Linked DNA regions of Homo sapiens: all the other regions are reported to be linked to region 2. The links are microRNA targets in miRTarBase. Many come from high-throughput screens and were not tested one by one. Region 2 holds a microRNA gene; each other region holds the end of a gene's coding sequence.

Region 1 (3,256 bases), not on the chromosome of region 2:
CTCATGCCAGATTTCAGAGCAGGGAACATTTCAGAGGTGGAGAAGTGGCTCTGTCATAGAGATCACAGAAGCACAGATGGTTACGGTGCTCCATGCCACTACCCTGGTTGGTGGAAACATCCATAACATAGGTTGTCCTGTTTGCTCTGAAGGCTACCAGAGGGGATGGCAATGTCCACAGGAGCTGCTGACAGGCCTGAGACTTAAGTGAGGGAGATGACAGAATAGGAAGAGGAGAAAGACATAAAGACAGGAGACCAAGGGGTAACCACATCTGGGCCAAAGCTGACCTTTCTTTCTTTCCTTCCTTCCTTCCTTCCTCCCTCCCTCCCTTCTTTCTTTCTTTTTTTTTTTAGACAGAGTCTCACTCACTCTGTCACCCAGGTTGGAGTGCTGTGGTGCAATCTCGGCTCACTGCAACTTTCACCTCCCGAGTTCAAGCAGTTCTCCCTGCCTTAGCCTCCTGAGTAGCTGGGATTACAGGCACCCGCCACCGCGCCCGGCTAATTTTTGTATTTTTTAGTAAAGAGGGGGTTTTGCCATGTTGGCCAGGCTAGTCTTGAACTCTTGACCTCAGGTGACCCGCCTGCTTCAGCCTCCCAAAATGCTGGCACTACAGGCATGGGCCACCACACCCGGCCTCTCGTGTGCTTTTAGAAGACCGTGTCTGCTGGGCCCCATGCCTGGAATGTCTGAGGGGCAGAGCAGTGCGGAGGTTAAGAGTGCGGGCTCTGCTGGGGATAGCGGAGTGTGCCTGTAGTTGCAGCTGCTTGGGAGGCTGAGGAGGGAGGATCACTTGAGCCCAGGAGTTTGAATCTAGCCTGGACAACCTGGATTTTTATTAGAAACCTCATCTCTAATAAATTTATTTTTTTTTAGATGTGGGTTCTGAAACTGTACCAGGCCTCTGTTGGAAACTTGGCCCGCCCATGCTGGCTGGGTGACCCTGGGAAAGTTACCGCACCAAGCTCTGTGCCCAAGTTTCCTCATCTATAAAACAGGGGACCCAACAGTACCTCCCCCATCACAGGGCTGTTGTGAGGATGACAGCACGTAATCCAAGCAGGATGCTGCATGCTTTGCCTGCTGCGCATGAAGTATTTGGGACCTTAAGTCATTACAGGTATATGGTGGGGCCCAACAACTGTATTTTGAAAATACTTTGGGCCAGGTGTGGTGGCTCATGCCTGTAATCCCAGCACTCTGGGAGGCTGAGGCAGGTGGATCACTTGAGGTCAGGAGTTTGAGGCCAGCCTGGCCAACGTGGTGAAACCCCATCTCTACTAAAAATACAAAAAAAAAATTAGCTGGGCATGGTGGCACGCATCTGTTGTCCCAACTACTCGGGAGGCTGAGGCAGGAGAATCACTTGAACCCGGGAGGCGGAGGTTGCAGTGAGCCAAGATCGTGCTATTGCACTCCAGCCTGGGCAACAGAGCAAGACTCTGTCTCACAACAACAAAAAAAAAAAAAAAAAGAAAAGAAAAGAAAAAATACTTCACAGGGCTCACAGGGATTCTAATCTGCAGGCCTGGGCTATCTGGGAGGCAGTGATCTCTAGGCTCCTCCCCAGCCTGCACCATCAAGTCCTAGGTACTAGGTACTAAGTTAAAATAACCAGCAGGTGGGCTGGGCACAGGGGCTCATACCTGTAATTCCAGCACTCAGCACTTTGCGAGGCCAGGACAGGAGGATTGCTTGAGCCCAGGAGTTTGAGAACACCCTGGACAACATAATAAGTCCTCGCCTCTACTAAAAATTAAAAAAAAAAAAAAATTAGCCAGGCCTGGTGGCACACACCTGTAGTCCCAGCTACTTGGGAGGCTGAGGCGGGAGGATGGCTTGGGCCCAGGAGTTCAAGGTTGCAGTGAGCTGTGATTGTGCCAACTGCACTCCAGCCTGGGTGAAGACCCAGACCCTGTCTCAAAAAAAAAAAAAAAAAAAAAAAAGTGAGCCTGGGCACGGTGGCTCATGCCTGTAATCCCAGCACTTCGTGAGGCTGAGGCGAGCTGATCATTTGAGGTCAAGAGTTGGAGACCAGCCTGGCCAACATGGCAAAACCCTGTCTCTACTAAAAAATACAAAAATTAGCCAAGTGTGTTGGTGGGTGCCTGTAATCCCAGCTACTCGGGAGGCTGAGGCAGGAGAATCGCTTGAACCCAGGAGGTGGAGGTTGCAGCGAGCCGAGATTGTGCCACTGCACTCCAGCCTGGGTGATAGAGCGAGACCTTGTTTTAAAAAAAAAAAAAAAAGGAAGGAAGGAAGGAAGGAGGGAGGGAGGGAAACAGAGAGAGAGAGAAAGAAAAGAAAAGAAAAAAGAAAGAGAAAATAACCAACAAGTGGGAACTTCATGTATTGCCAGGTCCTTGACTTGGAGTGGAGAAGGAAGATGCATCTAGAAGGGCATCAAGTCTGAGTTAGGAAGACGTCCCCTTTTGCAGGGGAAGGAGGCACGCACTATACCACAGAACGAGAGAGGAAGATGAAGGTCAGAAGGACAAGACAGGGGCGGGACTTTGGGGTCAGAGGTGGTGGAGGGCAAGAGGCAGGATGTAAGTGCTTGAGGCCTGTTTCTCAGGAAGCCCCCGCAGGGCTGGGTCCGGGCATGCTGACCCTTGGCGTCCTTCTGGGTGTCCTCAGTGTTCGGTCCTAGTACACCTGGAAGTGTGCGGACGTGGCGCCGTCCTTCCAGCAGCGCAGGGTGTCCACGGCGACCGAGCGGCAGAGCGGGCAGGTGCGCTCACGGTCCAGCCACAGGCAGAGGCACTCCTCACAGAACACGTGCTGCGGGGACAGCAATCAGCAGGCACCAGGACTCTTTACTGAGCGTCTGCCTCGGTCTCGGGAGCAGGAGAAGGGGCAGCGGACTAGACAGACAACCCCTGCCTTCGGGGCGCCTGCACTCGCGTTGGGGAGACAATGCGACTCCAAAATACTGAGTTATCAGTAGGAAGCACCAAGATGAAACAGCAGGGGAGGGGACAGGTGTGGTGGCTCAGGACTGTAATCCCAGCACTTTGGGAGGCCGAGATGGGCGGATCACCTGAGGCAGGAGTTTGAGACCACCCTGGCCAACATGGTGAAAACCAGTCTCTACTAAAAAATACAAAAATTAGCCGGGCGTGGTGGTGGGCGCCTGTAGTCCCAGCTACTCGGGAGGCTGAGGCAAGAGAATCGTTTGAACCCGGAGGCAGAGGTTGCAGTGAGCTGAGTTTGTGCCACTGCACTCCAGCCTAGGTGACAGAGCAAGAATCTG
Region 2 (3,256 bases):
ATCTCTTGGGACCAGAAGTGTTTGAGAGTTCAGATTTTTGTGAGGTTTTGAAATATTTGCATTATATACTTATTGGTTCGGGATTCCAAATCCAAAAATCTGAAATCCAAAATGCCCCAGTGTGTGCTTCCTTTGAGTGTTATGTTGTTACCCAAAAAGCTTTTGATTTTGGAGCATTTTAGATTTTGGATTTTCAGATTTGAAATGCTCAATCTATATTAAAGATCAACACAGGCTGAGCACAGTGGCTCATGTCTGTAATCCCAGCACTTTGGGAGGCCGAGGTAAGCAGATCACTTGAGGTCAGGAGTTTGAGACCAGCTTGGCCAACATGGTGAAACCCCGTCTTTACTAAAAATACAAAAATTAGCCAGGCATGGTGGTGGATGCCTGTAATCCTAGCTACTCGGGAGGCTGAGGCAGGAGAATCGCTTGAACCTGGGAGGCAGAGGTTGCAGTGAGCCGAGATCGCACCACTGAATTCCAGCCTGGGCGACAGAGTGAGTCTGTTTTTTTTTTGTTTTTTTTTAAAGTCAACACAAATATTGAAAATAAGCAACTTCAGTGCACAAATAAGCTCAAAATCACTAGTGAGTGATCTATTTTTTGCCAATAAGAAGTACCATTTGTACATGACTTAAAGTGCCTTCCACCAAGAAAATTATTGAAAACTGTTGGGTCACATAACATTCCTACACTTTGGATACAGAGTATTTAGTTTTATACAAAATTAAGACAACAAGAAACCTAGGATGTCCAAACATTCATTTCATTTATTTTACTGCATTTATTTATGCAGTGAAAATTGAAAGATACACCAAATTAAAGATAAAACCCTGTGACAGATAACAGTATATGTAATAACATGAATATTTATTTACACTTGGTAGAGAAAGCAAAGCTAGCTAGCTCTAAACTAGAATGAAAGTCGTTTTGAAATGGGTACGGGGGTATATAAGGGGAATGATTGAGTCACATGTAAAAGCCTTTGTATGCCCAGTGCTAGTGTTTTCCTGAAATCTAGTGAGAATCACAAGGTACCAGAAATAATCAAATAATAAATATTAATACACTGCTGGGATAGAAGTATCTCAGTGTACCAGCATTCACTAAGCTATAAAATCTGTGACAGCAGGAATATTAAATTATGAACAACCTGGTTTATCTGTCTCCTCTTATCTTTTACCTCTCCCTACGCCCAAAATTCTCCTTAGGTTATCCAGACATTTTTACTAAGATGCTTATTTATATGTAAGAGAGATTTCCAGTAGATACAACAAAACACAAGAAATCACCTGTTCTGTTTATTCTTGCTCATGTAGGATAAAGGTCCTGAGACCTCTCAGAATCTTACGAGGTTGGAGAGTTGTTTGGAATGCTGGGTTCTGGTCTTGTCTCTGCTTCCAACCAGCTATGGAATCTTGTGTATTCTTTCAGTCTTAAATCACTCATCTGTTATCTAAAGATGGACTAAATTATTCCTTCCTGCTGTGATATTCTGTGGTTCTCATCAGATAGAAATAACATATTTGAAAATGCTTTGTAAATGTTATGATACTCAGGATTATACTGCACAGAAAAAAAAAAATCCTAAGGCAGCACCAACAAAGGTATTCAACGTAGTGGGTGGTCTTTTACAGCATTACTTTGCCCATATTCATTTTGAAGACCTGAAATGAAGTTGAACTATAAATTGCTCTAAAATTCGTGAAGCAGGGTGAAAAGGTCTTTGCTTTGTTTTACATTTAAATCCAGCTGTCTATTTTCTGCTTATACTAGTGCTTTTTCATGGCAAAAAGACAGAAAAGTTCCCTTCTGCAGTCTCCAGTGTCTTCTGACCTCACAGAAATGTTTTCATGCTTTTACCTAGCAGGACCACCAGAGGCTCTGTCACACTTGCAGTCCCTGGCCCAACACCGAAATCCTTCTGGAATCTGTGCTCTGGGGGCTGTGCCGGGTAGAGAGGGCAGTGGGAGGTAAGAGCTCTTCACCCTTCACCACCTTCTCCACCCAGCATGGCCGGCACACTTTGGTCTACGGCACATCTCCAAGTATAGAGTGGGTTTTGAATGCTGTTATGTCTCACCGTGGGGATGGGAAGGAATACTCTGTTTTGGACTATTTGGAGGTACATGTGAGTGGATTTTATTACCAGAGTAGGAACTGTTTCAAGTTAATGTGTCTTTTATGTTGCTTTTAAGACAACTTTTGTGCCGCTTTTATCCATTCTTCCTTTTATCCACAGAAATACAAATTTCTAATTATAGTATATTTTTTCTATTTTTAAAATTGTGATAAAGCATATATAACAAAATTTGCCATCTTAAGTGTACAGTTCAGTGGCATTAAGTACATTCACACTGTTGCACAGCCATCACCACCATCCATTTCCAGAACTTGTTTTCATCTTCCTGAACTGAAACTCTGTACCTGTTAAACAGTAACTCCCCATGCCCCACCTTCTTTCAGCCCCTGGTAACCAGCATTTTCCTTTGTCTCTATGAATTTGACTATTTTAGATACCTCATATAAGTGGAATCATAGTATTTGTCCTTTTGTGTCAATCATATTGTATTTTTGTCTAAAAAAGGAAAACTATCAGATTTATGTGAAATGTAACGTAATTTACATTTGATTTACTGTTAGTAATGTCTCTTTAATCATGCTATGCTAGGGAAGTACATTATGGTCTCTCCCTCTAAGAATATGAAGAGGAAATTTTACCTTCAACAAACAAGCAAACTTAGTTATATTTTTGTGATTTTATGCTGTTTTCATATTCTATTTTGAGATCTATTTGTCTTAGCTTGGAGGTGGTTTTGTTAAATGTCCACGATTTAGAGACGGCATAATGAAAAAATGACCAAGAATTTGGTTGGGAATGGGAGGAGCTTAGAAGAACAAGAAATTGGCTTTGATTTTATAGTGTATGGTGCTCTGTTGGTAGCTGGACATCATCACAGGCTTTGGATTGAGAAGACCTGTTCTGGAGTTCTAGTTCTGCTACTGCCTAGCGTTGTGATCTTGATGAAGATACTCTTCCTTCCTGGGCTTCAGTTTTTGATCTATAAATTGCTAGTGATGGGGCTGGACTATTTTTAAGTTTGTTCTAACTTTAGCAGTCTTAAGAATTAAGGTTGCATGCCAGAAAATAGGGTTAAATATTTGTTTCTGATCTGGTTACAAAAAAAAAAAAAACTTGATGGCTTAAAGTAAATAAAAATTCAACAGTACGGTGTAAATTTAAAATGAGGCA
Region 3 (3,239 bases), not on the chromosome of region 2:
AGAGAGACGTGAAGCCTACGAATTCCAGAGTGAACCCAGGGCCTGGGGTGAAATGTCTTGGAACCTGAGGGAACATCTGGATGCTCAGATAGAAACCTCTTATCTGAGCATCCAGATAAGACCAGAGCTCATCTGGAATCAAGTGTACATGACTATAAAGAGTCCACCGGGATGTCAGGCTTCTTAGAGAGGTGCTTGTAGAGAGAGACATGTAGGAATGTGGACATGGCCACACTGACGCTGTTTGTCACAGATTTTCATTCTAATTTCTTGTTGTTTCTTTAAAATTGTCAAATGTCCCTCTTTCTTTTTTTTCTCTTAGTGCTTACAAGGAAAGCTGTCAGTCTTCATAAACTTTCAAAGAGTTACAAAAATACGTATTTTTTAAACTACAATTCAAGATTAGCATCCAAACCTACAAACATGATGTACATTCGTCACACACCATACAACCTTCACACCTGGCTACAGCAATGTTGACTTACATCACCATTGTTTATACTTGTGAAAACTTTATTGTGCACAGTGACATCCATTCCGCCAGACTTAATGTTATAAAGCAGCTGAGCAGAGCTTCTCAAAGTAAAACTAGCCGTGTTGCTACAAAGGGAAATTCTGGCTCTTGGCCCAACTGTTTCCATACCAATCAGCTAAGTCAGCCTCCTCTCTGCTTCTTTCCATTTCAAATGCCTGGGCTTTGGCCTTTGAGGCAATTAGAACCAGATCAGTTTAATTTTACAACACTGATCTCAACTGTATAGCAATATAGTGAATTTGCCCTGAGAGTATCAATACATTTTACAAATATTATGAGTCCCAGTTTATGCATGAAGAAATAGGCACAGAGAGGCTACATGGCTTGTCCTTTGTCACACAGAAGATTATGTTGAGTATGAAACTTGAGCTTCCGTTTTAGCTTTCCATGTGAATGCCCATGTCTCTCCAGAGGTCACCTGGAGCTCTGTGCACAAGGGCCACCCCACTTGGATTCTGTTTGTTACTTGTACTGCCCTGTCAGTTTTTCTGCCCAGCACTGAATTTTTCAGTACCCAAGACTTCATCCTTGATCTTCTCTGCTCTCTCTCATTCCTGCTGCCTTGATGAAGTGTGTTGCCCCTAATATTTTATTTTACACAGTGGAATTTGTGCCCTTCCAGCTGCAGCTGCTTTTAGGTGTGGAGAGAAGGACTTATAAAAAGGCGATGGACAGGCGTTCTTCTTTTTGAATTTTAGACCAAGTGGGGCTCAATATTTTACAGTTGTCTTACATTTGAATGCTGCTTTCTTTTTCTTTTCTTTTTTGACAGGATCTCACTCTGTTCAGGCTGGAGTGCAGTGGTATGAGCTCAGCTCACTGCAACCTCCGCCTCCCAAGTTCAAGCGATTCTCCTGACTGAGCCTCAGGAGTAGCTGGGACTACATGCATGCGCCACCATGCCCAGCTAGTTCTTATATTGTTATTATTATTATTTTTTGAGATGGAGTGTCACATTGTCATGTAGGCTGGAGTGCAGTGGCATGATCTCGGCTAACTGCAAGCTCCGCCTTCCGGGTTCACGCCATTCTCCTGCCTCAGCCTCCTGAGTAGCTGGGACTACAGGTGCCCACCACCACGCCTGGCTAATTTTTCGTATTTTTAGTAGAGACGGGGTTTCACCATGTTAGCCAGGATGGTCTCCATCTCCTGACCTCGTGATCCACCCGCCTTGGCCTCCCAAAGTGCTGGGATCACAGGCGTGAGCCATTGCACTGGGCCTCCAATGCTTTCGATGGAAAATAAAATAAAATAAAGGCCTAACAGTGTGGTAATGTTTACTTCTCTGCCACAACACTCAGTATGCCCCTTTGGATCTGGCAACAATTTAACATAAGGAAAGACTTTAGACCTTCACACCCTTTCAGTGAGAAAAAAAAAAATGACCTTAGCTCAAACTTTCCACAAAGCTGAACAGTCTCATTAAAACATCACTCCAACCTTATCTTAGGTGGGTCTGTGCAAAGGCCTCAAGGCCATGTGTCTTGCAGGTCTCCATGCCCTGCACTGCCCAGCTCTGGTCTCTACACTGCAGAGGAGATCTCTATTTTCATGTTTGAAGACCATGAACCCTCTGCTTCTGAATCAAAGGGGGAAAAACTGCAAAAGAAGCCATGTGCTCAAAGAAAAGAATGCCAAAGGGTATAAGTGGCTTGTGAAGAAGTTTCACAAAGCTGTCTCCATTTGCTAAAGCTATAAACAGTTCTTGATCTAGTCAATTGCAAAATACATGGATGGCCAGGGCTTCTGTTTAAGCAAAAGAAGAAAAAATATCAATAGCACAAAACTGCCCTTATAGTTTTTGAAAAAATATATCTATTAAGATAACAATTTTGATTTTTTTAATAAGCTGTGCATTAAGTACACTTTGTTTCCATCACTCTCCATTACTCTAGAGCTCCGCTTTGTCTGCCTGGGCCGGGCTGGCGACCCCACTGCCTCCCTCGGCGGTGCCACTGCTATCCGCAGGTGTAAAAGACAAGGCAGCCGAATTTATGCAGTATCTTTTCCCAGTTGGACGAGGCCCATCATCAAAAATGTGCCCAAGGTGAGCACCACACTGAAAGAGAAGAACAAAACGTCAGGGAAAAGCATGTACAAAGCAGGCTTTGAGAGGAATTCACATTAAGCAGTTTAAATGGATGACCAGCCTGTAGAGAAATGAAGGAAACCATCGTGGATGATTTCTAATCCGCCTGTCAATAGCCGCAAAGATGGTTTCTGGCAGGCTTTGCGCCACATGCTGAGAACAAAAAACACTAGAATTGTGCATATCAGAAATCATTTAGGAGCCACGTATTTTTTGATCTGTGAAGTCTCTCAGCCAGCTGAAAAATGACTGCAGTAATTTTATGAATCAAGTTGACCCTTGATCTTCCCTTGTAAGAAACATGGCAGCATAAAATCTTTCCCCCGGCATTACTTTTGGCTTTGGATGGGTGGGTTTCAGATATGCAGAAGTCCACTGAAAAGATACTGTTTAACTGGCCATGACAGAGGTGATGTTTGCTTTCATGGGCAGTAAAACTTAACATCAGACAAGTATTGGATGTTCTTGGAACCCAGCGAAGCAATGGCAAGGCTCAATAGATTTATGTCACAGTCACCAGGGCTGCAAATGTAGCAAAAGGAAACATCTCTAGCACACACAATTGTTTTTTTCCTGGCTTCCAACAAGTAGTGTCATGCTGGCTTCTTTATCCAA

What was found. The annotated mature microRNA hsa-miR-197-3p reads UUCACCACCUUCUCCACCCAGC and lies in region 2 at 1,994-2,015, shown strand. An mRNA with a match to its seed (bases 2 to 7 or 8) in the 3' UTR can be bound and repressed. Matches are read on the target gene's strand: a 7mer-m8 pairs with bases 2 to 8, a 7mer-A1 pairs with bases 2 to 7 and ends in A, and an 8mer does both.
Region 1: the mRNA of RNFT2 is a reported target of hsa-miR-197-3p. The part of its 3' UTR that is shown has no 7-base or 8-base seed match.
Region 3: the mRNA of MSRB3 is a reported target of hsa-miR-197-3p. Seed matches in the 3' UTR shown: 7mer-A1 at 1,653-1,659.

Annotation. Positions count from the first base shown.
Region 1 is chr12:116,848,842-116,852,097 of GRCh38, reverse strand. It overlaps RNFT2 (ring finger protein, transmembrane 2), which reads right to left. Exons shown (of 11, transcript NM_001382266.1): 11 at 1-2,784. The coding sequence ends at 2,650. Among named protein-coding and RNA genes, the nearest start is that of HRK, 31 kb to the left of the region's middle.
Region 2 is chr1:109,596,947-109,600,202 of GRCh38, forward strand. It overlaps MIR197 (microRNA 197), which reads left to right and starts at 1,947; the gene lies at 1,947-2,021. GNAI3 (G protein subunit alpha i3) reads left to right here. Exons shown (of 9, transcript NM_006496.4): 9 at 1-3,249.
Region 3 is chr12:65,462,510-65,465,748 of GRCh38, reverse strand. It overlaps MSRB3 (methionine sulfoxide reductase B3), which reads right to left. Exons shown (of 7, transcript NM_001031679.3): 7 at 1-2,594. The coding sequence ends at 2,427. Among named protein-coding and RNA genes, the nearest start is that of LINC02454, 140 kb to the left of the region's middle.